Linked DNA regions of Homo sapiens. The protein of the gene in region 4 purifies or fractionates together with the protein of the main gene of each other region. This does not show direct contact. Each region holds a gene or a part of one and is shown on either strand. Other genes may lie near its edges. The genes, in order: SLC37A3, PACC1, EPB41, BCAP29 and ECI1.

The links.
Region 1: the proteins of BCAP29 (region 4) and SLC37A3 fractionate together in Homo sapiens (co-fractionation; one large-scale study listed by BioGRID). This does not show direct contact.
Region 2: the proteins of BCAP29 (region 4) and PACC1 purify together in Homo sapiens (co-immunoprecipitation; one large-scale study listed by IntAct). This does not show direct contact.
Region 3: the proteins of BCAP29 (region 4) and EPB41 fractionate together in Homo sapiens (co-fractionation; one large-scale study listed by BioGRID). This does not show direct contact.
Region 5: the proteins of BCAP29 (region 4) and ECI1 fractionate together in Homo sapiens (co-fractionation; one large-scale study listed by BioGRID). This does not show direct contact.

The regions. Positions count from the first base shown.
Region 1 is NC_000007.14:140,332,184-140,338,023, forward strand, and holds the end of SLC37A3 (sugar phosphate exchanger 3), read right to left. Parts: intron 5,167-5,840; coding exon 5,101-5,166; intron 3,322-5,100; coding exon 3,229-3,321; coding exon of another isoform or gene 3,080-3,228; 3' UTR 1,569-3,079; downstream 1-1,568. UniProt on the Homo sapiens protein: Unlike the other SLC37 members, lacks glucose-6-phosphate antiporter activity.
Region 2 is NC_000001.11:212,375,744-212,381,943, reverse strand, and holds part of PACC1 (proton-activated chloride channel), read left to right. Parts: intron 1-1,906; coding exon 1,907-2,049; intron 2,050-4,237; coding exon 4,238-4,382; intron 4,383-5,059; exon of another isoform or gene 5,060-5,150; intron 5,151-6,200. UniProt on the Homo sapiens protein: Chloride channel gated by pH that facilitates the entry of chloride ions into cells upon exposure to extracellular acidic pH. Involved in acidosis-induced cell death by mediating chloride influx and subsequent cell swelling.
Region 3 is NC_000001.11:29,031,732-29,037,931, reverse strand, and holds part of EPB41 (protein 4.1), read right to left. Parts: intron 4,840-6,200; coding exon 4,687-4,839; intron 2,107-4,686; coding exon 2,009-2,106; intron 1-2,008. UniProt on the Homo sapiens protein: Protein 4.1 is a major structural element of the erythrocyte membrane skeleton. It plays a key role in regulating membrane physical properties of mechanical stability and deformability by stabilizing spectrin-actin interaction. Recruits DLG1 to membranes.
Region 4 is NC_000007.14:107,598,858-107,605,057, reverse strand, and holds part of BCAP29 (B-cell receptor-associated protein 29), read right to left. Parts: intron 4,875-6,200; exon of another isoform or gene 4,756-4,874; intron 4,662-4,755; coding exon 4,553-4,661; exon of another isoform or gene 4,529-4,552; intron 1,696-4,528; exon of another isoform or gene 1,551-1,695; intron 1-1,550. Other genes in the region: DUS4L-BCAP29 protein, read right to left, coding at 4,553-4,661. UniProt on the Homo sapiens protein: May play a role in anterograde transport of membrane proteins from the endoplasmic reticulum to the Golgi. May be involved in CASP8-mediated apoptosis.
Region 5 is NC_000016.10:2,240,460-2,246,659, forward strand, and holds part of ECI1 (enoyl-CoA delta isomerase 1, mitochondrial isoform 1 precursor), read right to left. Parts: intron 4,094-6,200; coding exon 3,947-4,093; intron 2,981-3,946; coding exon 2,859-2,980; intron 2,766-2,858; coding exon 2,587-2,765; intron 1,360-2,586; exon of another isoform or gene 1,176-1,359; intron 632-1,175; exon of another isoform or gene 85-631; intron 1-84. UniProt on the Homo sapiens protein: Key enzyme of fatty acid beta-oxidation. Able to isomerize both 3-cis (3Z) and 3-trans (3E) double bonds into the 2-trans (2E) form in a range of enoyl-CoA species, with a preference for (3Z)-enoyl-CoAs over (3E)-enoyl-CoAs.

The DNA.
Region 1 (5,840 bases), about 33 Mb from region 4:
TCTCAAAAAAAGAAAAAAAAAAAGGGAAAAGGGAAGAGGCACAAAGGACTGAGAGCGTTGCACATTCTCCATCCCACGGAACATCATGAGGAACAGCAGCTCCTCCAATACTGCTGCAGGAATGCTGACTGTGGCACTCTGGTTCCTCGGGAACCAGGAAAGGACAGAATAAGCAGGAGTAGGGAGAGACATTTCCTCCTTTGAAACTGTAAGAAAAAAAAAAACCACCTTCTGAAAAGAAAAGGCAGACCGCAGCATTTTATTTCAACCTAGCGAGCATCGACGATCTGGCTGTGAGGAAAGGATGCATTTTCAAATTAGCTTTCACTATGGTTTTCTCTTCCCTTCTCAAGGGAGAAGATATTAAGAAGAAAATAAAGTGAACTCTTAGATGTTCATCAAAGTTAAATCCTGGCTGGGCACGGTGGCTCACATCTGTAATCCCAGCAATTTGGGAGACCAAGGCAGGTGGATCACTTGAGGAGTTACAGACCAGACTGGTCAACATGGCGAAGCCCCATCTCTACTAAAAATACAAAAATTAGCTGGGCGTGGTGGCGTGTGCCCGTAGTAGTCCCAGCTACTTGGGAGGCTGAGGCAGGAGAATCGCTTGAACCCGGGAGGTGGAGGTTGCAGTGAGCCAAGATTGCACCAGTGCACTCCAGCCTGGGCAAGAGTGAGACTCCATCTCAAAAAAAAAAAAAAAAAAAAAGTTAAATCCTGTGCAGACTGGCAGAACTAGAATAAGGGAATATATCCTTATTTCATGTTGTCCAGTGCTGAGCATTGATTTGTAATTTCATTTTACGCAGGCCCAGTGGCTCATGCCTGTTATCCCAGTACTTGGGGAGGCCAAGGTGGGAGGATCGCTTCAGCCCAGGAGTTTGAGACCAGCCTGGGTAACAGTGAGACTTCGTCTCTACAGAAAATAAAAAGACTAAAAATAATTAGCCAGGCATGGTGGCGCACGGTCCATCTACTTGGGAGGCTAGTCCCAGCTCCTTGGGAGCTGAGGCGGGAGGATCGCTTTTGACTTCAGGAGGTCAAGGGTGCAGTGAGCCATGATCGTGCCACTGTACTCCAGTGTGGGTGACAGAGCGAGACTTTTGTCTCAAAAAAATTTTTTTAAATGGTTTCATTTCAGTACAGCTCGGGGGCCATAGAAAGGTCAGGGGAACAGTCACCGATCTAAGGTTCAACTGGGTAAGAAAACATTGGCTGGCGTGGGGACACAAAGATGAGACCACACCCACAGTGCAGCCGGAAAGGAAACTCTGAGCCAAACGCCAGCCAAGAGGTTCAATGAGAAAACAGACGGCCCTTAACTTACAACCGGGCAATTCATCCAAACCGAGCACAGTCTTCCACAGTGGGAAAGGGCAAGTTTTCACAGAACAGATGGAAATGAAGCCACCCCAGCACCTCAGGTGAGGGAGCACGTGACCCAGCAATGCTGTGGGTCAGCGTGGGCTCACCCGGGAGCGCTCAGTATCAGGAAACATGAGGGCACCGATCACATTCTAAATCTCAGTGCTCATGGTATATAGATTTAAGTAACGAAATGGAGATTCATTATAAAAGTCAGTTTATTTTCCCTTTCTGTGTTTCGTATTTTCCCTTTTTGTCAGTAAATGAGCAATACACTGATTGGAAATCTGCATGATTAAATAACATTAACAAGTTCATAAACACACCCCATATCAGAGTATAAAGCAAGAGGTTGAAAAATATCCCCTAACCGAATGCAAATTAGGTATCCCTCAAAATTGCACATTCTCCTCCTAGTTTGCTTGCATAATTTAAAATATGTATATACAGAATGATCTTAAAATATTGATAACTAGTATGGAATTCACAGCCCTGAAGATATATATACTCTACATTTTTCTAAAGAACGGACACCCCTCAGGCCCTAGTAATCCATTCATGTGATTCAATGTCATGTACAGACAGTCCTCAGCTTCTGATTTTTGGACTTTACAATGGTGTGAAATGGTTGCAATTTCAACATAATGTACAATATTCAATAAATTACATGATATATTCAACACTCGATTATAAAATAGAGTTTGTGTTAGATGATTCTGCCCAACTGTGGGCAATTCTAAGTGTTCTGAGTACATTTAGGGTGGACGAGGCTAAGCTGTGGTGTCCAGTCAGGGGTATTAAATGCATTTGACTTCCAATGGGTTTACTGGGACATAACCCCATCATAAGTCAAAGAGCATCTGTACTTGACACTTACTAGAAGAAAAGGTCTTTCCCTTTTCTCTAATTCTAGTCTTCTGCTGAGGTAACTCCAGGAAGCTGCTTGTGCCAGAGATCAATCCTCTAAAAATAGACTAAGCAGATTAGCTTCCTAGAGGATCCTAAGTTCCCAGACAACAAATCTGGGATGGAGTGCTTCGGCTGTGAGTTACACGTCGGAATGTTCAAGATAAATGATGTACCTTATGGTCCTTTACACGTCAGAATGTTCAAGATAACTGATGTACCTTATGGTCCTTGAAAGGAAGACTCAATACTTCCAGGAGTCAAAGTTAATTTGAATGAAAATGGAAGAGAACAAGTTGACAATAATTTGAAGCAATTCATGCTTCTAGGGCTGAATGACGTTTAGATCAGACACAGAGTGACTGAGCCAATCAACAGGCATGTAGTGTGATCTTTCCCACCACAGTGAACAGAGGGATTCTTTGTCCAAGGCAGGCTTGCAGCTCGGTCCAGCTTGAGCATTTGATCAGGATTTGATGCTTCAAAGATGACCCACTCTCTGTAAACTCATTACCAAAGCAAAATGCAATGATCTCTTCCATTTGTGGAACATACCACCAACACAAACCACGCGTGGCTTTGCCTCCTGTTCACTCCATTTTCAAGGCTAGAGAAAGTTCAAGTCCAAAACAACAGTTAAGGTTAAAACGCTAAACCTCAATAGGCCAAACAAAGACGCGGGCAGAGTCAGAGGTCAAAGATGCTGGCAGAGTCAGAAGTCACTCGGCACATTCATGAAACAACAGCAAAAATCATCAACAGTAATTCCTGTAGTGTAGAAAACTAGTGCAGCCTTCACTGCTGGTCAGCATCTCAGGTGGCTGGCAGTGTTGAGAGACGCCTGACAATCCAAGATCAGGCTGGAGCTCCTAGACAAACCCAAATTAGGGCAGACTCGAAGCCCCAGCGGTCCTGATGTGGCTGACATTGTTCTTTCTGTCTCGCGGGCACCGGTCACTCCCTCAATATGTGAGCCTGTCTCCTTAGCACGAGAGAGAATATTTCCCTCACTATTAATGGCGAGATAAACACAATTGTACAACTTGTCTGTAAAGAGAAAATAGTATTAAATATGCAGCAACAGTTTACTTCTGTTAGAGTGTCATGTTTTGAACATAATAATGGATTTGGACAATTACATTCATTTTGACTTCATACAAAGATAATGTTTAATCTTCAATGAATTAGAAAATGATTTTGAAAATTATGGCTAATATTACAAAACACTCAACATCACATTTCAGTTCCCAAAAAAAGAACAATACATACAAATAATTTGCCATAGGCGGAGCAGAGAACTGAGACCAGAGGCTCAGATGAACAACAGTGATCCTTATAATAGATAAAAGTTTTCTTTCTACTACAGTTCCTAGTATGATCACATCAGAAAGTTCATCACAAGATACTTCCCTCTACTTAGCATGGATGTCAGAAATGGAACACAAGTTACATGGGCCCAGTCTTTAGAAGCTAGATGGGAATTAGATGAAAGCTCCAAGGTATTCCTGGAGCTGGACTATCCTGGGGCTCCTTGACCACAGCAAGAGGACAGCTGCCTGGAGTACGGGTGGTGGAAGCTGCCTTCAATTACAGTGCCCTGGATTTGGGGACAGGATACTGAATGCGTCCCTGGTGCCTTCCAGACTCTCTCAGGTAGACCTGTCTTGAGCACTGTCCCACAATAACGTGCCTGAGTATGTCACAGCTCATAACAGAGAGCAATATTTTAAAAGCACAAAGCCTCAGGAGTTTGAGACCAGCCTGGGCAACATGGTGAAACCACCTCTAGGAAAAATTCAAAAAGTTACCAGGCATGGTGGCACACACCTATAGTCCCAGGTAATCAGGAGGCTGAGGTGGGAGGACCCCCTGAGCCCAAGATCACCTGAGCCCAGGAGGTCAAGGCTGTAGTGAGCTGTGATCGTGCCACTGCACTCCAGCCTGGGTGACAGAATGAGACCTGTCTCAAAAAAATAAATAAATAAAAATAAACAAGGCCTTACTCTGTATTGGCTATTTCCAAGAAAGTAGAGAATCCCAGCCAAGAATGTCTAGGGCATCATAAATATTTCCTCAAGAAACTATCAACATTTTAGAACCGGGAAACATGACAGTGTTGATTACAGCAATGCTTCTCTTTTAACTCAAGTGTTGCTTGGTATACATTGTAATTTACTTCAGAATTCCTATATTATATTCAGCAGATAGAGGGTAGCCTAGAAGAGTATACTGATTAGGGGCTGGTGATACTTTAAATAAGTCTCTTCTTGTTTTTCTGAAATCATAAATGGCAATATTCATTAGACTCAGGTCAAGAGCAAACTGAGAGCCTTTTTCTTCCTCACAAAGAAGAATGTGAAGTCAGGCGCAGTGGCTCCTGCCTGTAATCCCAGCACTTTGGGAGGCCGAGTCGGGTGGATCACCTGAGGTCAGAAGTTCAAGACCAGCCTGGCCAATATGGTGAAACCCCATCTCTACTAAAAATACAAAAATTAGCCGGGTGTGGTGGCAGGCGCCTGTAATCCCAGCTACTCGGGAGGCTGAGGTGGGAGAATCGCTTGAACCCGGGAGGCAGAGGCTGCAGTGAGCCAAGATCACGCCACCACACTTCAGCCTGGGCAACAGAGCGAGACTCTGCCTCAAAAAAAAAAAAAAAAAAAAAGAAGAAGAAGAAGAAGAAGATGTCTTTTAGACTAATAAAATGTTACTTTTCACAAAGGAGCCTTTAAAAGCAATCAACAGTTTTGCTGAAGTGACTTAAGTAAGTGCTTTGAACTTAATTAACAGAAAAATGACTTTTTTTTTTTTAAAGGGGCACACACTTACCATGAGAATGAAAAAGTAGAAAACCCACATCCATCCTAGCTTGTCCCGGATCAGAGACACTAAATACTGAAAGGGAGGAAAAAAAAATTACAATATAATTCTTTATAATTCATAAAAGGAAGCAGCTAAAAAGTAGATTAAACATGGCTATTTTAGAAAATAAGAAGGGAACAGGATTTGTATGTTTTGCAGTTTACAAAGCTCTTCCACATACATGTGCCTGCTGTGATTAATGGCCCATTTAAGCATGCAGAGTCCAAATGGAAAAACCGTATAATAGAAGTTGTCAGTTCAGAAGGTTTATTTTTATTCACTTTGCTATTTAGAGAGGAAGATGAACATCCGCAAGCCACTCCCATTTAATCATTCTTTCTTCCAATGAAAGGTACTATAATTGATGCCTCAAAAATAGTTTGTCTTTAAGTATGCCACTCATTTTCCAATTAGGCTGTTTGCTCACAGTGTTGCAGTACTACCTTTGCATCCTACAGCATATTCTTTTATTTTACTTTCAATTACTGAAAAGGATCTAATTGCACTTATTTAACCCATTTTCTTTTTTTCTCTTATTATGGTAAGATATAGCTTACATAAAATTTGCCATTTTAACTTTTTTTTTTTTTTTGAGATGGAGTCTCGCTCTGTCGCTCAGGCTGGAGTGCAGTGGCGCAATCTCGGCTCACTGCAAGCTCTGCCTCCCAGGTTCACATCATTCTCCTGCCTCAGCCTCCCGAGCAGCT
Region 2 (6,200 bases), on a different chromosome or scaffold from region 4:
GGAGAAGCCTCCTTCTCTCTCTGAGAACAGTCCTGGCATGCAGGCCGTGTGGCGTAGTGGGCAGTACTGCCTCATAGGATAGTCCAGCCATGACTTTTGTCTTGTCACTGTGCTGTCCCCTGGGCATTGTTCTGGTCCATGTGGGCAGTGTGTGTGTGTGTGTGTGTGTGTGTCACTGTGCTGTCCCCTGGGCATTGTTCTGGTCCATGTGGGCTGTGTGTGTGTGTGTGTGTGTGTGTGTGTGTGTGCAGTGTGTGTGTGTGTGTCTGTGCACATGCCCAGGCCTGGGAAGGTGGAGGGCAAGCAGTTCCCTTTTCAGGAAATGGGGTGGAGTTGAATGAGTCCCCTTTTCTTTCGCACATTAGGAACTTTATCACGTGGCTACATTTGAGGGCAGAGATGAGGCTCCAGCAGGGGGAGTGGATTCTGCTGAAATCTGGGTTGGGAAAGCCATTCTAGTACTAAAGGAAGAAATGGATAATAGAAACCAGGGACAGTGCTTTCTGTTGCACACTTAAAACAAAATGGTACAGAAAGGTTGAAAAATAAATAGATGGACAAAGCTGTCTTGAGAAGATGCAACGAAAACCAGAAGTGACAATATTAATAGTGTGGAATTCCACGTGCAAAAGTTTGCAAGAAGGATGTTTAATATTGATAAGAGGTTCAACTCCATACTCTCCACTAAGACGACTGAACAGTTCCAAAACTTTATGTACAAAACAGCATGACATTTATATATTTTAAGCAAAACCCGTTAGAAGTAAAAAATACCATCACTTTAGAGCACGATTTAAACACCCCTCTCAGAAATTCACAGATCAAATAGACAAAAACTAGAAAGGATAAGAATTGAATAGTGCAGTTAATAAATTTAGAGTATGTATGTGTGTGTATACATGTGGGGGCACAAAACTTTGTAACTGACAGTGTACTCACTCTTTTTCAAATCTCTGTAGAGCATTTATTTATAAAAGTTGATGTAAAAGACATTTTTTTCTAAAATTAATCTATAAATTCAGTTTCTATCACAGTTAAAAGTCCCAGTGAATTTTTTTGTGGAACTAAGCAAGCTAGTCTTAAAGCATACTTAGAACACGTTCAAAAATAACCAAGACAAGTTTGGGGATGGGGAAGAGTAGTAGGGAGAGCACCTTCCCAGATCTCAGAACAGTGGAAAAACCACAGGAATCAAAGTGGCACAGTACTGGACAGAGACAGACAAATGTGTGGGCTCTGCTAGGGCCAGAAGCAGACATAGATATTGGTTCTGCATGGAATTTAGTATAGGATAAAGGAGGGAGGGGAAGAGGCTTCAAAACCTGTCTCTATGCATTGTTTGGGAAGTAGGAGTTAGAGCCCTATTTCACACTATATACAGAGCTTAAAGCCAGGTATATAAAGTATCTAAATGTAAAAAAGATTAAAAAGTGCTATAAAGAAATAGAGGAGAATATTGATATAATTTTGGCTTTCCTCAGCAAGCAAAACCCAAAGCCGTAAAGAAAAGGATTTAAGGTTTTACTACGTTAAATTTAAAGTTTCCATAGGACAAATGACATTGGAAACAAAGTTAAAAGAAAAATGACAGACTGGAAGAAAAGATTGGCACACATAACAGATGAAAGTGATCATCCTTGCTAAATTAAGAGCTTCCATAACTCAAAGAACCAATGAGAAAAGTGGACAGAGGATGAGCTGCATTCAGCTCTGGTTGGGCATCATATGGGGAAAACTCCCCAGGAATGAGCATGAGTCCCAGCCCAGTCCTGTTGTTGGCTAGTGGTCCCTTTGGAGACCACTGGGCAAGGAGCTATGGGCTTTCCAGTCAGTACTTCTGCCCTCAGACCCAGAGGCCTCTGTGTACTCTCCCAGGACTGAGACTCTGTCCTTTTTCTCTCTGCAGAAATCTGCCCTGATTGTCCAGGGGCCCCGGGAAGTGAAAAAGCGGGAGCTGGTCTTCCTCCAGTTCCGCCTGAACAAGAGTAGTGAGGACTTCAGCGCCATTGATTACCTCCTCTTCTCTTCTTTCCAGGAGTTCCTGCAAAGGTGGGCTTTTAGAGTTCACAGTGGGCTTACTGTCTACTTTTTATCTTATTCCAGCTGTGTATGTCCCAAGGCTAGAGACGGAGGGGTGAGGGCAGGGAAGGGAAGGGGCATTCTCAGATGACCCACTGGCCCAGGAAGGGACCTCATGAGCTTGGCCGGTCCACTCAACATCTTATCACAAAGTTAAGCAAATCTGGTGTGGAGGAGCATGCTGGCTCTCCATGCACATAGTGCTGGCTGGTTCTAGAGAGATCATTTGGTCTCACCATTGCCTGGGGCTGCTGAGGAGTAGGGGAAGTTGCCTTTGATTTGTAAGTCCCTTTGAGAGCAAGTTCTTGTGTGGTTCCTTGGTTTCCCCCACAGTGTGCACAGGAACCACATCTTGCCCTTAGTGCGGGCTTAATGTATGTTTGCCTGAAATACAGTTGGTCCTTGAACAACTTGGGGTTTGGGGTTACCAAACTTAACCACTCCTGCCTATGCAGCCAAAAATTTGTGTATAACTTTTGACCCCCAAAACTACTAACAGCCTACTGTTGACAGAAGCCTTACCAATAACATAAACAACACATATTGCGTGGTTATATATATCATAGACTGTATTCTTACGATAAAGTAAACTAGAGAAAAAAAATGTTATTAAGAAAATCATGGCCAGGTGTGGTGGCTCACACCTGTAATCCTACCACTTTGGGAGGCCAAGGTGGGCGGATCACGAGGTCAGGAGATCGAGACCATCCTGGCTAACATGGTGAAACCCCATCTCTACTAAAAATACAAAAAATTAGCCAGGCGTGGTAGCGGGCACCTGTAGTCCCAGCTACTCAAGAGGTTGAGGCAGGAGAACCGATTGAACCCAGGAGGCAGAGTTTGCAGTGAGCTGAGATTGCGCCACTGCACTCCAGCCTGGGCAACAGAGCGAGACTCCAAAAAAAAAAAAAAGGAAATCATAAGGAAGAGAAAATATACTTACTATTCATTCAGTGGAAGTGATCATTGTAAAGGCCTTCATCCTCATCGCCTTCATGTTGAGTAGGCTGAGGAGGAGGTTTGGTCTTGCTGTCTCAGGAGTGGCAGAGGCAAAAGAAAATCCGCACGTGAGTGGACCCAGCCAGTTCAAACCTGTGTTGTTCAAGGGTCTACTGCATCTCTGGTATGAGGATATAAGCTCTGCCACCTCTCTTAGTCTTCGATTTACAGTGATGAATGTCCCCTGACCATCAGAAAGTTCTTGTCTGCTCCACACACACTGCTTTGGGGTCACACCGTGGAGCCTAGAGGGCAGGAGAATTTTCTTCATGTGCCTGAGTTGAGAGGGACTCAGTTCCTACCAGGTCCTGCTGAGCCCAGAGGCTCCATTCAGAGCAAGCAGGGAGGCAGCTACAGGGGCAGGGAGGCTGCTCCCCAGCTGGACATGCAGCGAGCTGCCTCCATTCCACACCACCACTGCTTTGTTCTTCCACCCCAGAGCTCGGAGCCTCTGCCTTAGCATTTTCCACCCTTTCTGCCACCTAGAATTCCCTCTCCCTTCCCTGCTTCAAGCTGGCCATCTTGCCTTCCTCCTGGAAGACTTTCCCCGGGATCCCACCCCCACTCCACGCTCCTTTCGTGAGCTTCCTCGGTATGCTGCTGCAGTTTTTACTTGTTTTTATGTTCGCTTTGATTTTGCTGCATCTGCACCGTCTTGGGGCTGATGCTGTAGGTGACCCATCTGGCTGAGACCTCCCCAAGGAACCCTCTTCCCCTCTTTGGGCCTTCCATGGGAGCTGACAGGCTGGTGAGGGCTTCCTCAGGCTCTGCTGAAGTCCAGAGTTCTCTGAGGAGCTGTGAGCGCCATGTTCTGGGGAGCTTCTGCCAACTTCATTGCCGACAGCTTTGGTAGCCATCGATAGGAATGATGGGAGGAGGGAGGAAGATTTCTCCCACTGGGAGCTTCAAGGATCATGTTCCTGCCTTGAGGCCAGTGACTACCCCTCCATTTGGAAACCAAATGGAGAGAAAAGAGGGATGGGCCTTGCTTTTGCTGGTGACTGACAGCCCTGTTGAGGCAATCACAATTTGGAGAGGAGGCAGGGAGTGGGCAGCATCCTGGTTGTGCCAGCAAAGAAACCAGCTTGCAGTGGGGGCTTCGACTCCTGCTGCCAGACCTGCATTGACCTGGATCTTCCTTCTCCTTCCTTCCTCCAAGCCCAAACAGGGTAGGCTTCATGCAGGCCTGTGAGAGTGCCTATTCCAGCTGGAAGTTCTCTGGGGGCTTCCGCACCTGGGTCAAGATGTCACTGGTAAAGACCAAGGAGGAGGATGGGCGGGAAGCAGTGGAGTTCCGGCAGGAGGTAGGTGGCTCTGGGTTTGCTTGAAACTGCTGGTGACTTTTCCACATTCGAGTCTGAGGTGGAGGGAAGCTTTGCAGAGAAGGCTCCTTTGAGCAGGGCCTTAAGGGTGAGTAGGCCTTGGTCAGGATGAGAAGGGACTCCCATGGAGGGCTTCATATGCTATGCCAGGGAGTCTGTGTGTGCTTCTGCAGGCAGCGCACATACCGGCCAGTCCTCACGGAATGCATGTGTGGGGCAGAGATCATTGTGGCTTGCAGAGAGGTCAGTAACTCGCCCAGCTGTGTCTGATGTCTTGCATCTAGCAGCACTTTGAGGGGCTGGCAGTGGCCTAGCAGATTGATTATTTGCAGGGAAGAGAGACTAGACACAGTGGTCCCAAGTGTGCATGTTGATCCTTTTCCTAAGGTCCTCTTCAGCTCTCACAGGTGTCACAGCGAGAGATGCCAGGTGTATCTCCTGGCTGCTAGGCCAGTGGGCTGAAAGCTTTTTGATCAGATTTCCCATTAGTAAAAACTTTTTGATCATATACTCCATATACATATAACTCTGCAGGTGATATAACATACTATTATTGTCTTAGTGTTATATACACTTTAAACATTCAAAAATAGAAATGTTAAAAGGATGAGATAAAAATAAATAGTAAAAAAAGCTAGTCTTTTCTTCTTGTATCCCAGTGGCTCGGGATGCTCATCTGGAGCAGAAGGACACACTCCAGTCAACTAGGCCATCACTGGCCAGAAGTTAGGCCGGAGAAGACTGTCTTGGGTTAGTCTTAAACAGGGCCCTGTCATGAGCCCTAGCTCCTCAGACTAGTCCAGGCTGGTTACTTGGAAGAGGCTCAAAGCCAGTTTTCTTCAAGGAAGCAAGGCTATTTTTCCTGCCTTGGGAAGTGACAACCCCTCCTGGTGACTGGACCTTAAAATCTTCCTGTTTTGTAAGATAACTGTCATCTCCCAGATTTTTACCTCCAAATTTGCTCCAAGAAATTCAAGTCCTTTCTTATCTGGCCCCACAGCAGCTCTGAGGAAGGAGACTGTGTTCACTTACCTTACAATTAAGTTCAACCCCATCTACCCTGGATTTTCTGATAGCTCCCACTGTGATCCGAAACCAAAGGGTGAAAACTCTAGTGAACCTGTACATTAAAGAAATTTTAGCATCTTTTATTACTGTCTAAATTGGAAGTCTTTTGTTGGCATTATGAGCTCTTTTGAACAAAACTAAAAAATGTGTTTTAAAATCACATTTTAGAGTTTAGAGTGCTCTCACATAGGTATGCCCCTATACTGTAGTGACGTAGGCATTTTGTTCAGCTTTGTGGGTGGCAAAGCTGAGGCTCAGCTTCGATGATGGATCTGAGCCTCTGGGTGGAGCTGGTTTCTGCCTTTGTTACCTGTCTGCTCTCCGTTACACCACACAGCGTCTTTAGTAATTGACAACCAGATCTCACCAAGCACACCTACTAAGTATTTACAGGGAATGCTCAGCTGTGTGGATCTATGCAGCTGTGCTTTGTCCCTGTAAACTTGAAGGGTTGAAACAAGCGTTGAAAATTCAGAGAAATACTTGATCTGAAAACCAAGTACTTTGAAATTTGGAATTTTTATTGCTTTTAATTGTGAGTCTTACATGGTAGTTTGAATATGGTTTATTTTTAATATTTTATTTTTTTTGGAGACAGAGTCTTGCTCTGTCCCCCAGGCTAGAGTGCAGTGGCACTATTTCGGCTCACTGCAACCTCTGCCTCCCAGATTCAAGCGATTCTCCTGCCTCAGCCTCCTGAGTAGCTGGGATTGCAGGCGCCCACCACTACAC
Region 3 (6,200 bases), on a different chromosome or scaffold from region 4:
TTATTGAAGCTGGGTGATAAGTACAAGGGGATTTTATTGTACTGTTGCTACATATGAAATTTTCCATAATAAAGAAACGTTCTTAAAAAGGCAAACTGGGCCGAGTGCAGTGGCTCACGCCTGTAATCACAGCACTTTGAGAGGCCAAGGCGAGTGGATCACTTGTCAGGAGTTCGAGACCAGCCTGGTCAATATGGTGAAACCCGGTCTCTACTAAAAATTTAAAAATTAGCTGGGCATGGTGGTATGCATCTATAGTCCCAGCTACTTGGGAGGTTGAGGCATTGCGCCACTGCACTACAGCCTGGGCAACAGAGTGAGACTCTGTCTCAAAAAAAAAAAAAAGGCAAACTGATAAATAGCCAACTTTCCTTTCAATACAAGTAATTACTTGTCTAAGGTCTGTCTTCTCTACTAGACTGGGTGTTCCACCAGGAGAGAGACTAGAACTATCTTGTAGTATATTCCCAATGCCTAACATGGTGCATACAAGAAGGGTAAGCACATAGAAAATGCTTGGTAAACGAACTCAAGGGGTTAATAATATGGCCTCTTGGCACAGTGGCTCACGCCTGTAATCCCAGCACTCTGGGAGGCCGAGGCGAGCAGATCACTTGAGGTCAGGAGTTCGAGACCAGCCTGGTCAACGTAGTGAAACTCCATCTCTACTAAAAATACAAAAAATAGCCAGGCGTGATGTTGGGCATCTGTAATCCCAGCTACTTGGGAGGCTGAGGCAGGAGAATCACTGGAACCCAGGAGCAGTGAGCCAGGATCACAGACTGCACTCCAGCCTGGCAACAGAGCAAGACTCCATCACAAACAAACAAACAGCAGAGGAAATACTTTCTTCTGTCTTCTGATTATCGGGTACTATTGGGCTTCAAATATGGTTCTGTGTGCTCCCTTTCTGGGTTTCATTAGAGTGAAGCTAACAATCAGCTTCAAGGTTGGCCAGGCACGGTGGCTCACACCTGTAATCCCAGCACTTTGGGAGGCCGAGGTGGGCAGATCATGAGGTCAGGAGATCGAGATCATCCTGGCTAACACAGTGAAACCTCGTCTCTACTAAAAATACAAAAACAAAAACTAGCTAGGTATGGTGGTGTGCACCTGTAATCCCAGCTGCTCAGGAGACTGGGGCAGGAGAATTGCTTGAACCCAGGAGTAGGAGTTTGCAGTGAGCCGAGATCCGCCACTGCACTCCAGCCTGGGCGACAGAGCGAGACTCTGTCTCGAAAAAAAAAAAAAAAAATCAGCTTCACATCTTTAACCTTATAGTATAAAAGCTCCACAAAAAGTAGTCAAGCATTGCTTAGAGAAATTCCATGTGGAAAAAAAAATTAGCAAAAACAAAAAAATAAAAATTCCGTCCGGGCACAGTGGTTCATGCCTGTAATCCCAGCACATTGGGAGGCCAAGGCAAGTGGATCACCTGAGGTCAGGAGTTTGAGACCACCCTGACCAACATAGTGAAAGCGTGTCTCTATTAAAAATACAAAAAATTAGCTGGGCATGATGGCGGGTGCCTGTAATCCCAGCTACTTAGGAGGCTGAGGCAGGAGAATCACTTGAACCCGGGAGGCGGAGGTTGCAGTGAGCCGAGATCGCGCCACGGCACTCCAGCCTGGGCAACAAGAGCGAAACTCCGTCTCAAAAAAAAAAAAAAAAAAAAAATCACACGTGGAGGTAAGTGAGGGTAACTCCCCTTAATCGGACTGACTTTAGCTACAATTAATGCAATCCCAGAGTCCCTGGTAAATACAGGTTCCCATTCCTTACTCCTCTCTTCCTTCTACCATACACAGACAGGTGCTTTGGAAATGTTGAGGCATACTTTTCAACCCAAAGGGAGAGAAATGGATTCATTTTGTCTTGCTTAAGATGATCTCACCTGAGCTAAATAAAAGAGTGCCAGTCATACAATGAAAGGAATTTTAATAGCAGGCTTAAAATAGAAACGTTATAAATAATTTATCCTTGAAAAATACTTAAGTGAGAATAATACCTGAAAAACGTGTGATGTTCTACACAGACTTTCCATAATTTCTTAGCTGCTCGGTAACTGGGAAGTTTGAATCCGATGGTACTTTCATACTGCTCTTGCTACAAAAACACAAATAAACATGGGACATGAAGTATTACATGTGATACAGTACCAGATTACAGTGATACAGTACCAGAGAAATATGGTGCCACAGAAGAGGCCATTGTTACCAATTTAAGGACATAAAATGTCATTTGGAATTTTTTCCTACTTACTGAAAGAAATTCACTCACTGAGGGTGGCTTTTTCCAAAGCAAGAAAGCCAGGGAATGCATCTCATATAATTTAAGCTTTTTTTTTTTTTTCCAGAAAACACACACACATTCATTATACATTTTTCTGAGACACAATTAAGTCACCTCTTGATTGTCCAGACACTGCTTTTCCTTAGTCACTATCTGCATTTGGGACACTGTTCAATGAACAGGGAATGGGATATTGACCAAGTCCTCCAATCAATCAATATTATTATGCAATAGAAATTAGTAATAGGAGCTAAAGATTTTAGTTCAAGCCAGATTTTTAAATCAATTTTTTAAATTGACAAATAAAAATTGTACATACTTATCATCTACAACATGTTGTTTTGAAATATGTATACCTGCCAGGCACGGTGGCTTACGCCTGTAATCCCAGCACTTTGGGAGGCCGAGGTGGGCAGATCACAAGGTCAGGAGTTCAAGACCAGCCTGACCAACATGGTGAAACCTCATTTCTACTAAAAATACAAAAAAAATTAGCCGGGCATGGTGGCACGCGCCTGTAATTCCAGCTACTCAGGAGGCTGAGGTAGGAGAATCACTTGAACCTGAGAGGTAGAGGTTGCGGTGAGCTGAGATGGCGCCACTGCACTCCAGCCTGGGTGACAAAGCGAGACTTCTTCTTCCAAAAAAAAAAAAAAAAAAAAAAAACAACAAACAAACAAACCCAAGAAACACGTATACATTGTGAAATGGCTAAATTGAGCTGATTAACATATGTATTACCTGACACACTTATTATTTTTTTGTGGTGAGAAAACTTAAAATCTAGTCTCTTAGCAATTTTTCAAGAGAACAATACATTGTTATTAATGATAGTCACCATGTTGTACAATAGATCTCTTGAACTTATTCCTCAGATTCTTGAATCATTAAATATTTCTTTTTTCCTTTGATTGATCATTAATTTATCTAGATTCCTCTTATACTGAAGCAAAACATATTCTCCCAGGGTTACTAGAAACACTGTCCTGCTGACCTCTTGCCTCTTTATTTCTACTTTAAGCATATTTTATAAGATGGAAAGGAAACTGACATTTATTTTGAGTGCCTACTATTGCCAGTAACACTATGATTAGATAATATCATCTATATTTTTAGACATGAAGAAACTGAGGTCAGAGAAGTTATTTGCTCAGACTGACAGCTATGAAATGACAGAACCAGATTTTTACCCTCTTCACCATACCATGCCACTGCTAAATCATCTACTGCTGCCACAATACTTTTTCTCAAAATCCTGTTGTTCCTGATTGCCTTCTAAATAAGAATTCTACATTTTTAGAAGCTAAGGATTTCCCATTTTCATATTAACGTGTGTGAGGGATGAGATTCTAATTTGCTGTTATATTCCTAGTCCCTAGAATAGTGTCCAACACAGGAAAGCTCTCAATAAATATTTGTTGATTGAATAACTCTTGAATTTGAAATTTTAAGGGAAGACACTGACTGCTCTGTGCTAGGCATAGGTAAAATAATTATGGTACAAAATAAATGCTTCTATGGTAATCCCTATCCAAGATTTTTAAGGCTCCACATCCAGAATTTGCAGGCACAAATAATTAGCCATTATTCACCAGCAGATGGTGATATATACACACAAAAGCCACCTTAGGTTAGTATCATTTCCTATATAGAACTTACACAGCTGTCATCTCATTTGATCTTCAAATAACTATGATGGAGAAGGTATTATCCTGCCCAAATGACAAGGAAGCTGAGCCTTAGATTTGTCCAGGTCTTTTGCTTAGTATGTGGCAGAAAAGAAGTCAGAACTTTTTAAAAAACTTTAATTCCTACTTAAACAATTTTATGCTATTCCATAATGGCTCTTCAATACAAAAGTTAAATTTGGCCAGCATTAGTATATCCCCAAACCAACTAATAAATGAATTAACTGGTACAAAGTTGAACATCCAACTCTTATTAAAAATCTAGAACTTGGCCCTAGAACTCACTCTCAGTAACCACGAGAAGCTATGCATACAAATAAATTTTAATTATATGAGATAAAGGATTGGTGATGCCAAACATGAGTAATTTATCCCTATAAATAATTTTAAAATCTCATGCTACTCAATTTAAAAATATTTTTCCATTAAGTTTTTGCTTGGCGTAAACAAGGAACAAATGTATCAGTCCAAGTTTAACTTTTTGCAATGGTATATTTACTTACAAAAAGTGAAATGTCCAGAAGACCAGTAGTAAGGAAAAGAAGTAGCATCACAGGACTGATCAACTTAGAAAACGGAATTATCAGCCCTTCAATAGTTAACTATAGAGAGACTTCTCAGATGACTTAATAAGGAAAATGGAAATGTAGATATTTCAGATACAGACTGTGTCTGGTTTGGGAGGAAGGAAATATAAATTCTGTACCTCTCCAGGCCGAATCTTGATGAAAAAGCTACTACGTTTATAAGAAATCTTCAGCACTTTGGGCCAAGGGAAGCGGTTAATTCTCAGCTTATCTTTGTAAACCAGAAGGCCACTAGAGCAGACACCTAGGATGATATCTACTCCTTCCAAGTCCTGAAAAAGAAAAATGTTAGGATTTCAGTCTGGAGCAAAGTACTCAATACACTGTTGACTATTACTAGATAATCTGAAGATAACAACCAAAAACAGTTACAAAACATACAATGAAAAATAAAGCTCAGCCTAACAGTTATAATTTATGGACCTATTATGTTTAAATCAGCAGTCATGACTTCCTGGAGAGCAGGGCTTAGAGCTATGTATACTACCAAATATACACGCACAATTATTAATTCTTGTTTTTTTATGATAAAGTGTTAACAGCTCCAGAAATGATGTTAAATGTAGGAGTTGACTCTATTCCTATATAAACTCAGCATAAGACAATCTTAGGTTCTTAAAATTGATGTTAAGTATATTAAATTAAAAATATGATCCCTAAGTCAAGAAGTTACATTAAGGCACAATGAAATCATATTTATATGCCTCTTTATTAAAGACAACTTTAAAAAATTAAATATGTAATATTAATCATCTATGTCTATAATTCAAAGAAAATAAATTTCACCTAAGTTAGTCCCTACAGCTAACAGTTTGTTTAGCTAAGTAATCAAAACACAAAGTTAAATGCTTCTTGACTACTCTTTCCCCCAAAATGAGTATAGAGAAATATATTAGTGCCTACACGTGTTATAACAGAGAAGCAGGAATTACATACAGTTCCAATTCAGTGACTATGTAACTGAGAATTTCCCAGAAGATGCCCTCTTAAATTTTTAAAGCTTGTGGGTATAACTACATTTCACTTTGGAGAAACAATTTGCTTTACAATATTTGGGAAGGGAACATGCTGCCTGACTCCATCAATACCTGAATTGACACCAGCTTCCAGCAGGAATTGTGAAGCAAAATCTAACCATTTCAGTTTTAGAAACATACCTAATCTGATGTACTGATCTTCCTACAATATACTTTAGAGATTCATAGAAGTTGTAGTACCCAGCCCAAAATAATCCAGAACAACTTTTTTCTTTTTTTTTTTTTTTTTTAAGACAGAGTCTCAACTGTCACCCAGGCTGGAGTGCAGTGGTGCAATCTAGGCTCACTGCAGCCTCTACCTCCTGGGCTCAAGCAATCCTCCCACCTCAGCCTCCTGAGTAGCTGGGACCACCAAAGGCACGTGCCACCATGCCTGACTAATTTTTTGTATTTTCTATGGAGACGGGATTTCACCATGTTCCCCAGTCTGGTCTTGAATTCCTGAGCTTGAGCGATCGGCCGCCTCAGCCTCCCAAATTGTTGGGATTACAGGTGTGAGCCACCACGCCTGGCACTGGACCTCCCCAGCAACTTTAGTAGCTGAAGAAGAGAGAAGTAAGGAGACTTTCCTTAAGGATTCATTCTGTTAGGCTGTA
Region 4 (6,200 bases):
GTCCAAGAAAAGTACTCTGATAGCAAGCAAACCCTTTTTTCTGTTTTGACAATAACATCAATATGTGAAGATAACACAGAGATGAACTAATAAATACTAATAAATCCTTTATTTACCTAACTAAAAGGATTGGTCATGAGTTTTATTTACTTTAAATAATTAAAATACTATTAATTATATATTGCCTACTGGCACAACCATCAAATAAACTATATTATTCTTTCTTAATGCAGTTTTTTTTTTCAGTTGATACAAGAAGGGACAAAGGTGTCAAAGAAACAGAAACTTCCAGACATGAAAACAAATAATATGTTTTTTTCTTATTTAAATCACAAAAGTGCATTAAAAGGCAACAAAGCAAAAAAAAAAAAACAACAACAACAACAACAACAAAATGACTAAAAACAGCAAACTGTTTTTAAGCATTAATAATTTTAAAATAAGCTGGGGGCTTTGATATAACTGTAAGTAAAAGATAACTAAGTTCACGTCCACAAAAATTTACAACTGTAAAACATGCTTAGGGTAAACTTAGAATTTATTTTTAGATGAATATATGGTTCATTTGTAAGAAACTGGAAATCATATGGTTTTAAACTTGTATACAAAGCTTATGTCTTATTCTTAACACTGAAGAGGCAGGAATTTAGGGTTTTGGGTATACAGATCAGCAATTCCCCTGTAATTTTCTATCTTGTCTTGATCTCCAATTTCTCTGGAAAAACACTTCAGCTATTTTTCACTATCTGGTCCCTATGTTAACTGGCAATAAAAAGTAAAAAAAACTTAACATCTTCAAGGGTATCAAAGTTGGTCTGCAAAAGGTAATTTTAGTTTTGTTCAACGTAAGTCAAGGTGATATGAAAGCATTTATCCAGGAAGAGAGTTGAATTATCATTATTTTAAGTAGGGGACTAAGGGTTCTGTTTCCTGGTCCAAATCTAGTATCTCTATTGCGTGCTGCTAATACTTAGGTACCCATAATAGGTCTTTACACTCAGTTTCTGATTGTTAGTATATGCTTTAAGAAATTTATTTAAAGTTTGCTTTATCCTCAAGAGGCACACTTTTTAAGGAAAGTGTTAATTATGCTCCACATTAAATGACTTTACAACGACTGAATTACTTGAAAAGTTCTTTTAAAAATTGCTGAGGCCCAGGCACAGCAGTTCATGCCTGTAATCCCAGCGTTTTTGGAGGCTGAGGAGGAAGGGCTTGAAGCCAGAAGTTCAAGACCAGACTAAGTAGCAAAGCGAGACCCTGTCTTTACAAAAAATCAAAAAAATTAGGCGGGCATGGTGGTGCACACATGTAGTCCCAGCTACTCAGGAGGCTGAGGCGGGAGGATCTCCTGAGTCCAGGAGTTCGAGGTTGCAGTAAGCCAAGACTGCACCACTGCACTCCCACCTGGGTGACAGTGAGACTCTGTCTCAAAAAAAAAAAAAAAAAAAAATTGCTGATGAAACAAAGAAGGAACAAAGGAAAGCAGGAACAAACAGAAGAAAGGCATGGTCAAGAAATTTCCCCCAATTACTGTTTTCTCTTTTCCTTTATGTAGAAGACATATACTGCTAATTCAACCTTTACTACAAGATTGGCAAGCCCTAAGAATTCCTTTTAAAATATGGGATGTTTTTTATATCTATATGTATTCCTGCTCCTAAAAGAATGAAGAACAGACATTTCCACATGCAGCTCAATCACTTTTTAAACGATATTTACTTTTATCATTGCTTGGATGCATACAATGACTGAATGCTACATATTTCTAGTTATAAGAATAAAGGAGACCGGGCGCAGTAGCTCACACCTGTAATCCCAGCACTTTGGGAGGCCGACGCGGGCAGATCACAAGGTCAGGAGATTGAGACCATCCTGGCTAACATGGGGAAACCCCATCTCTACTAAAAATACAAAAAAATTAGCCAGGCGTGGCGGCAGGCGCCTGTAGTCCCAGCTACTTGGGAGGCTGAGGCTGGAGAATGGCGTGAACCCGGGAGGCAGAGCTTGCAGTGAGCCAGATCCCACCACTGCACTCCAGCCTGGGCGACAGAGTGAGACTTCATCTCAAAAAAAAAAAAAAAAAAAAAAAAGAATAAAAGAAGGTATTCATTTATGAAAATAAGTAGTTTTCCTGGAAGAGACCTTTAAAATCAATCTCTTTGGACATCAGAAGGTTTTTCCACTAAATGCAATGTCTGTGCTAGGGTGATATTACTGCACGGAAGCACCGGTAATAGTTTACAAACTTTGGTCAAAATAGGAGTTGGAGGTTAAAAACTGAAGGTGTTTGCCACTACTGATAGAGTGTTCTCAGTAGCTGCCTTCAGAATGCCACTTTTTAAATTTGGGGCTAACTAGCTTAAATAAACATTTGTATTTACGTTTTGTTTCCAATAATACACTTGGGAGAAAATGTTTCACTTAGATTTAAGTAACACAAAGGATAAGAAAATTCATATGGAAAACACCCTATTTTCCTCTAAAAAAAAAAATTGCTTTTTTTTAACTCAATTTTCAAATGTAAGATCTCTTTCTAAATCTTTCTTAAGCCTTGTCACCTTAACACCCTCAATATTTAGAAATCAATGAACATTTTTGAGTGGTACTGTGCACAAAGCATTGTACCACTGAATTCATCCAAATCATGCACTATTAATTGATATATTTTCTTAGTTCTTACCTTACTGAATTTAACTGGTTTAGGTCAACAGAACATGACCAAGGAAACACCTTCTTTAGAAACGGAACTCTGATCTTCTCAAGGTCATTACAAATGTTATTTTTTAAAAAAACTTAGGGTAAATAAAACATGTTCATAAAATATTATATGTCTTGCTGGAACCAAACAGGACACACTCGAACAGGTAAAATCTGCCTTTACCTGAACACTAATTCACTTTGAAAGTAGCTCTGCAGTCTATACTTCAAACACAGAAGCTGGTATCAGTTGTTATCAGATTGTAAACACAATGCTTACATTGTCAAAGAGTTCATTTTTTCTAAAATCTGATTTTGTCTTTTAAAGAAATGCTCATGTAATACTAAGTTAAGTTTTATGCCAGATTTAAAGAGTTAAAACTCAAAATATCTCAGAGCTGGAATTTTTGAAAGGTGAAAGGAGAAACTCAATTGTGCAGGGTTAAGAGAAGTGTAGCACACATACACTCTTGTCTATCTTTTATTTTTGTGCCACCCTGCTTACAACATAAGAAAAGAGATTCTTGGTGGATACAGAAAAAAGAAAGCAGGATTTTGAAAGAATATTTTTGTGTTTTGGAAATAGATGGTTTCATTCTTCAAAAGAATTGGTAGCAATATTTTATGCAGGGTTAAAAAAGAACACTAGTTTCTCTTCTGAAATGTCTGTTGTAAACGGTAGGTAACTATTAAATTCATTTTCATATAAACAATAACATTTCTTGATCATGTTCGAAATCTTTTGGAATTACAGAAAAGGCAACAGTACCAACTAGAAGATTCTTGAATTTTGGGCTATACTATGCCAACTACATAATATACCACTTTGTCTATAAGGGTAATTTATTTTTTAACTTATTGCTTCTGAACTGTCTTCTTTTTTTCACTTGAAATAATAAGGAGGAACGTGACTAAAGAATTTTGTATCACATAAATATTCTCCAGTGGATTTCTGTTCTATTCACAGAATTAGCTTTTATTTTTATGTTTTTCATCTCAAATTCAAATACACCCTGATTGAAGTAAACCCTATCCAAACAACGTACCTTAACACCAACTGAAAGTGAGGTTTCTCAGTGTCTGGCCAACATAAAAAACTATCTGTTGTATGCAGAAATGTTGCAAATCATCAAGCCACAAACTTACACTGAGTTTTCTTGGATGACACTGAATTTGGGTTATCTACTTTTCTGTGCTGTGCAGATGCAACAAAAATAATTTGTTCTTTGACTAAGAAAAAAACACTAGCAAAACTTTTTTTTTTAATGTAGAAGAAATTGCTGCCTTCAGGAAAATGGAGTTGGGATGCTCCACTTCAAGCCTACACTGCAATGTTATGTGGGAAGGAGGCACTCAAATTCTTAGCTGACATCCCAGATATTGTTGCCTACTCTGTGCCTACCCACCTCTTTCAAGGAACGCTTTCCTTATGTCTAACAGGTAGAATATATTAGTGCTTGAAATAAACAATATATTTTCTTGTAAGAAAACTGTTCCCCTACAATTGCTTCTCTGAGAGGAGGAATATACGATGATGGAAAAATGTGATTCTTTTTATAAAAACACATTTATAAACAACTTTTTAGGAACACAGCTCTTTTGCTAAGGCAAGAACATCTGTATTTACAACACAGATCTGAAACACCTACATGTTTTTCTGTATAACAGAGCATGTTTCTCTTGGCTGACATAATGTTTTATCTTCATATTTGAACAAGAATTTATAAATAGGTCATTCTCGGTATCTTAGAAGAACATTTAGGCATTAGTTTTGTTTTAGGAAAAACAGTGAAGTGTACAGCATAAAATATCATGCTAGTCTTTTTACTTTTTCACATGTACACAAAGTTACCATCTGAAGTCTTCCTTAATTCAGTTTTCAGTTTCTCCTGGTCTTCTACTAGTTTTTTATTTTCTGCTTCCAAAACACATTCTTCATCTTTACCATGGCTTTTCAAAATCTATTGCAAAAGGAGATACAGGAAGAAATAAGCTTAGATTGCAATAGCCAGACATTCTTACAGAAAATAAGCTGAGTAACCTATCTAAACTTACCTGTTTATAATTTATTCTTTGTCCTTTTCAGAATTTTATAGTTTTCTACAATGTACTTTTGCTAACAGAAACTTAATATTTGGGAAACACACAAAAAAGATTTCCTATTATGGCAAAATCTGTAAAATGAACATAAGAATTTCTAGTTGCTGTGATTAAAATAATATTCTCAAAAGTATTTAGGTAAATAACGTCAGTCTTTCTTCCTCAATTAATGAGAAATGTAAATCTAAGGGAAAAAAACAGTTCTGAGGATGATATTAATTAGAAAACCATTATGTTCTGATTGTAGAGCTATCTACTCAGCCTATTTTTATACAGACAAATTTGTAAGAGAAGAATATGTCAGAGTGGAGATGGGTAAGTGGGAAATGACAGGACCATTTCTACAGCTGGAAAGTTCTAATTTTCATTGAATAGTTTCCAAATTACTGTTATTCCATTAATCCTTTATAATGCTCTTTATATTTTAAAATTGATTCTGGCTTTAAAAATGTTAGTGTTTGTAGCTTATCTTTTCTAGGTAAGAAAAATTAAGATCCATATAGTAAAACAACTGATCAAAATAAAATTATCATGGAGTAAAAATTTAATCATCTGTATTGTGTACAGAAACTATAATTATCATCAGAACTAAGAAGCTGACTTAAAGAAATGATAAAGCATTTAAATTACCTAGAAAGACAAAGTAAATGTTTGAAAAACATAATATGTATACTGTTGTGGGTCAATAGATTAAATAAAGAGGCAGGCAGCTACTTTTTTTTCTTTTTTTTTTTTTAAGAAACAGGGTCTCACTCTGTCACCCAGGCTGGAGTACAGTGGTGCAACCCATAGTCTCTTCAGCCCTGACCTCCTGGGCTTAAGTGATCCTCCCATCTCAGCCTCTTGAGTAGCTGAGACTATAGGCGTGTGCCACCATGGCAGGCTAATTTTACAAAAAATTATATATATATATATGTGTGCATATATATATTTATATATATATATATAAAATTTATATATAATTTATATATAAAAATTATATATAAATATATATATAAAAATTATATATATTTATATATAAATATATATAATTATGTATATATATATTTATAAATATGTATTTATATACATATAAATTTTAATATATTTATATATTTATAAATATATATTTATATACATATAAATTTTTAATATATTTATATATTTATAAATATATATTTATATACATATAAATTTTTAATATATTTATATATTTATAAATATATTTTATATATATACAAATTTTTAATATAAATTTATATATATAAATTTGTAGATCTATAAATATATATAAATTTATAGATATATAAATTTATATATACACGTGTGCACATATATGTGCGTGCGTGTGTGTGTGTGTGTGTGTGTGTGTGTGTGTGTGTGTATACTGTATTGCCCAGGCTGGTCTTAAATTCCTGGCC
Region 5 (6,200 bases), on a different chromosome or scaffold from region 4:
CTCGGCCTCCCCAAGTGCTGGGATTCCAGGCATGAGCCAGCACGCCCGGCCCTAATTTTTTTTTGTTTTGTTTTGTTTTTAAAGAGACAGGATATTCTCTGTCGCCCATACTGGAGTGCACTAGTGATCACGACTCACTGCAGCCTTGAATCCCTGGGCTCAGGTGATCCTCTCACCTCAGCCTCCTGAGTAGCTGGGACTACAGGCGTGCACACACATCCTGGCTAATTTTGTATTATTTATTTATTTATTTTTGAGATGGAGTCTGTCTCTGCCACCCAGGCTGGACTACAGTGGCGTGACCTTGGCTCACTGCAACCTCCGCCTCCCAAGTTCAAGCACTTCTCCTGCCTCAGCCTCCTGAGTAGCTGGGATTACAGGAGCATTACCATGCCCGGCTAATTTTTGTATTTTTAGTAGAGAAGGGGTTTCACCATGTTGGTCAGGCTGATCTCGAACTCCTGACCTCAGGTGATCCACCCTCCTTGGCCTCCCAAAGTGCCGGGATTGCAGGTGTGAGCCACCGCGCCCAGCGACTTAACGTGTCATTTTCACTCAACTATATTATGAAGAATATTTCCACGACGCAGGAGGCTGAGGCAGGAGAATGGCACGAACCCAGGAGGTGGAGGTTGCAGTGAGCTGAGATCGCACCACTGCACTCCAGCCTGAGCAAGAGGGAGACTCCATCTCAAAAAAAATAAATAAAATAAAAATAAAAAAATTTCCATGGCACTATATTAAATACTGTCTTACAGCACAGGAAATGGCAGCACAGCCTTCAGTCATTTGTATCAGGGTTGGCAAATCTGGCTTCTCAAGGCCCTGAAGCTATGAATAGTTTTTACTTTTTTTGAGAGGAGTCTCACTCTGTCGTCCTGGCTGGAGCGCAGTAGCATGATCTTGGCTCACTGCAACCTCCGCCTCCCAGGTTCAAGTGATTCTCCGGCCTCAGCCTTCCCAAGTAGCTGGGATTACAGGTACCTGCCCCCACACCCGGCTAATTTTTGTATTTTTAGTAGAGACGGGGTTTTGCCATGTTGGCCAGGCTGGTCTAAAACTCCTGACCTCAGGTGATCCGCCCACCTTGGCCTCTCAAAGTGCTGGGATTACAGGCTTCAGCCACTGTGCCGGGCTGGTTTTTACATTTTTGAATAGTTGAAAATCAAAAGAAGGTTAGTATTTTGTGACATGTGAAAATTATGTGAAACTCAAATTTCAGTGTCCATAAAATTTTTTTTGTTGTTTTTGAGACAGAGTCTCACTCTGTCACCCAGGCTGGGGTACAATGGCATGATCTTGGCTCACTGCAACCTCTGCCTCCCAAGTTCAAGCGATTCTCCTGCCTCAACCTCCCAGTAGCTGGAATTACAGGCACGTGCCATCACGCCCGGCTCATTTTTTTTTTTTTTTTTTGAGACAGAGTCCTGCTCTCTGTTGCTCAGGCTAGAGTACAGTGGTGCGATCTCAGCTCACTGCAAGCTCCGCCTCCCGGGTTCACGCCATCCTCCTGCCTCAGCCTCTCGAGTAGCTGGGACTACAGGCGCCCGCCGCCACACCTGGCTAATTTTTGTATTTTTAGTAGAGACAGGGTTTCACCGTGTTAGCCAGGATGGTCTTGATCTCCTGACCTTGTGATCCGCCCGCCTCGGCCTCTTAAAATGTTGGGATTACAGGTGTGAGCCACCGCGCCTGGCCCATTTCTGTATTTTTAGTAGAGATGGGGTTTCACCATGTTGGCCAGGCTGGTCTTGAACTCCTGATCTCAAGTGATCTGCCTGCCTCAGCCTCCCAAAGTGCTGAGATTACAGGCGTGAGCCACCGCACCTGGCCCACTGTCCATAAAGCTTTGCCGGAACACAGCTATACCTGTCAGTTTACGTCTCCTCTGTGGCTGCTTTCTGCTACAAAGGTCTTACCTACAGAGCCCACAAGCCACCTGGCCCTTTAGAGACAGAATTTGCTGGGCCCTGGTCTATACCATCGCTGATATGACCAGCTCTTTTTCTATGAAGTGGACAATTGTCTTTGTAGTAGGTTGAAAAGTGTGCCCCAAAAGATAGGTCCAAGCCCTAACCACTGCTCTGGAACTTGGAAGTGTGACCTTATTTGGAAAGAGTCTCTGCAGATGTAATTAAGTTGGGATCATCTTGGATTTAAGGTAGGTCCTAAATCACATGGCAGGTGTCCTGAGAAGGGAGAGAGAGACCTGAGACCCACAGAAACACAGGGGAGAAAGCTGCGTAAGGATGGAGGCAGAGATTAGAGCGAGGCGCCCACAAGCCCAGGGAGGCCTGGAGCCAGCAGAAGTGGGCGGGGCAGGAAGGAGCCTCCCTGGAACGCAGGGAGGAAGTGCAGTCCTGCCCACACTTTGATTTTGCACCTCTGGTCTCCAGCACCGTGAGATGAGCTTCTGCGGTCTGGGCCACCCGGTCTGTGCTGCGTTGTTACAGCAGCCTCCTGACACCCACATGGCTGTGATTATCAACAGTCTCCCGAAGTCACGATGTCCACAGAAAACCTTTGGGTGGAGAACCTTCTGGTCTCCCCAGCATCATCGGGCGCCCGCCATGCCCCGTGCCTCACCTGGAATGGCCATCCACTGGGCTATCGCTGACAGCGCAGTGCTCTGCACCTGCTCCTCCGGGACCACCTGGTCCACTATGCCCACCTGCAGGGCCTCCGCCGGCGGGAAGAGCAGCCCCAGCTGCAGGGCACGCTCCGCCGCCCGGTGCCCGATGGTGTTCTCCAGGGTGTCTTTCAACCTGGAAATGCAGACACCCACTCACCACATGGCCCCAGGCGGGTCTGTTCCCTCCACAACAAGCATGGAGCGTGGCTGCAGCCCAGGGCCTTACCAGAAAGGGGCGATGATGCCCAGCTGGGTCTCATTGAGTCCTATGCAGTACCTGGGGTTGTCCGCCAGGATGCGGTAGTCACAGGTCAGGGCCACCAGGCAGCCTCCAGCGGGGCAGGCTCCCTGCAGGGAGAGGCCGGACAGGGCTCTTAGGTGCTGCTGGTCCCAACCACATTCCAGAGGGCCAGGTCCAAGGAAGGAGGGCCTGTGCCCTTGGCGCACCCCGACCCCCGCAGGGTTCAACACCCACAATGGTCTGGGCTGGGCTGGGTGTGCACTGGGAAATGGATGAGGAAGGAACTGGCCCCTTAGCGCTCGGCAAGGAGGGTCTGAGGCTCGTCCTCAGCCGAGGGTCATTAGTTCTTCGGCAACAGATAAATCACTTTTAAAAACCATTCAGTTAGGGGAGCAAGTCGCTTGTCCTCTCAGTGCTTTTACTCAATGCTAAAATGCCACACAAGCATTTAGTCATAACTGTCATGCCCCAAGGGGGCCCCGATACCACCCCAGCAGCTAGCGCAACCAGGATGTCCTGGGAACCCCACACTCACCCTGTGGTCACTGCAGGTACCCACTGCCCCGCGCAGGACCCATCCTGTCTGCATGGCCGTGCACCCTTGAGGCTTCCTCTCACACCAGCCCTCCCCTCCACCAGGCTCCGGCCCACACCCGGCTTGTCACAGCCACCCCGCAGGACACCCTGGTTCCTGAGGTTAAGCCCCCGTGTTGTTCTCGGCTTCCCTGGCCTTCCCCCAGAAGGGATGGAGTGATGTTTCCAAAATGTGGGTCCGATCACCCACTCACCCACACAGCCTCCACCCAGGCTGGCATCAACCCCAGGCCCTGGTCCCTACCCACTGGCTCTTTTCTGGGTCTTGTCTGATTGACCCAGGCCAGGGCCCTCACCCGAGGCCCACCTTTCTCAACACGCCCCGTGGTCTGCGATGGCGCTCACCTGTGCACATCTCAGGGCCTCTCCAACCGTCCCCTTCCCCTGTGAGAGATTCCAAGGGCAGGACAGTGTCTGTCCCACCCCCTGGCGCTGGCCCAGAACAGCCAGCGAGGCCACCTGGGAGTGGGGACACTCACGTTGATGGCGGAGACCAGCACCAGGTTGGACTGGTACAACCGCAGCCACAGCTCCTGAACGGCCTTCCAGTACCCAGCGTAGTGGGCGGGGCTCCTCCCACACATCTCCGTCAGGTCCAGGCCGGCCGAGAAGACACCCGGGCGGTCCTGCAGGGGGAGCCGGGGCCACATGCCCATCAGAGTCCACCTCCCAGCTGGCATCACAGCAGGAGGGCTGGGGAGCCCAGGTGCACGACGCACAGCAGGGCCAGGTCACGCTCAGGGTGTGGGTGCTGCCCCACAGAGCCAGGACTAGGCGCTCCAGGGACTCGGCCAAGGCTTCTCCTGGACCTGGCTTCCCTGTACTTCCCAGAACATTCTTCCCTTTCCCGCTTCAAACTGGATAGGAGAGGACAGGCAGCGCCAGGCACCTCTCAGGGACATAAGTGCGCCGGCCCTCTGGCTCTGCACGCCTGGCTCGGGCAGAAGAACCCAGAGGTGTGGTGAAGACTCCTGAGAATCCAGAGGAGCTGCACGTTCTGAATCATTTACCCGCAAAGGGCCAAGCAAGCCAGGGACCCCCGTGTGGACCAGGAAGTGCTAGGGTGGGAGAATGATCTGGAATGTGTGGGTTTCTCAGCAGCTACCAAGGAAGGGCGAGGGGTGAGCACAGGTGGAAGGGACCCTCCCACGGCTGGAGTAGCGGGCGCCAGCACAGGAGCCTCAGACTCCCAGTCAGGGCTGCCGGCCAGGGAGGCGGGCTCGGGGAGGAGTGGAGAACCCACCCTGGGGACCCTGCATGGTCACAGCCCCCTGAGCAAATGACAAGGGTACCTTCCCCTCTGCACAACACGGCACGTTTTCCTCCCGAGGGCCAGACCCCCCAAGGCTGTGGGTGAACTTGTTCCTGCAGCTGAACCCAGCTCACCCTGACTCACACAAGCAGAGCTGGGTGGATGTTTACCCCGCCCTGTCTGCAGGAAGGAGGGCGACAGCCACCTAATGTGTGCGAGGAGGAGGCGGCTGGGACAGATGGGATGGCCTCCACATCCTCAGGCGATGTGAAAAAGCCAGGAACGGTGCGGGTGGGCAACGCAGCTCCGCTGTTCCCAAACAGGTGTGAGCTGGTGCCGCACAGAATGGGTAGGCCGGTCCTTTGTTTCTACAAAACGCGTTCTACTTCCGTTACTCAAAACCCAGGCCTGGCGTGGTGGCTCATGCCTGTAATCCCAGAGCTTTGGGAGGCCAAGATTGGAGAACTGCTTGAGGCCAGGAGTTCAAGACCAGCCTGGGCAACATAGCAAGACCCCGCCTGTACAAAAAAGTAAAAATTAAGCAAAAAAATTAACCAGGTGCAATGGCTCGCACCTGTAATCCTAGCACACTGGGGAGCCGAGGTGGGAGGAGTGCTTGAGCCCAGGAGTTCAAGACCAACGTGGGCAATAAAGGCACTGTCTCTCCCAAAAATTTTAAAAATTTTCAAGATTCAAGAATCGCTTGAACCCAGGAGGCGGAGGTTGTAGTAAGCCAAGATCACGTCACTGTACTCCAGCCTGGGCAAGAGAGGGAGATTCTGTCTCAATAAATATATAAGGCTGGACGTGGCCAGCACTTTGGGAGGCCGAGGTGGGCAGATCACTTGAGGTCAGGAGTTCTAGGCCAGGCCCTGTAAAGCCACGCCAGCCTCCGAGGACCCCTCACTCCCCTCACCTCAGCCAATGCCCGCTTCTCCTCAAGGGTCCCATCCTCCTGGGCCTGACACTGCTTACTGCCCCTCGGCGATGTTGGTAATGACACCGTTCCCACAGATGACACGCCTAGCGTTCGCCAGCACTCAGGCAACATTTAGAGTCCCCTGCACAAGAACTCAGACCAAAGAGGTTCACCCTTGAGAACTCGCCCTGAAGACTGGCCCACAGAGGATCAGAGAGCATGGGTATTGTTCGCAGGACTGGCTCAGGGCACCCAAGTGATCCTAGTGGGGAGCACTCCAGGAACCCACCACCAGGTGTGCTTAGGGTCCAAGGTGACCCCATAGATGCATGGCTCTCCCTCACTCGCTGCCCACAGCTCTCCCCAGTGTCCGCCTGGACGACGGCCCGGGCAGGGAAGGCTGTCTCCCAGGAAGGCGGTCTCCCAGGAGGGCTGCCTCTTGGGAAGGCTGTCTCCCGGGAAGGGCGTCTCTTGGGAAAGCTGTCTCCTGGGAAGGCTGTCTCTGAGACTGGTCCACCTTCACCTTTGGGAATGATCTGCTTGAGGCCCATGGCAGTTTGGG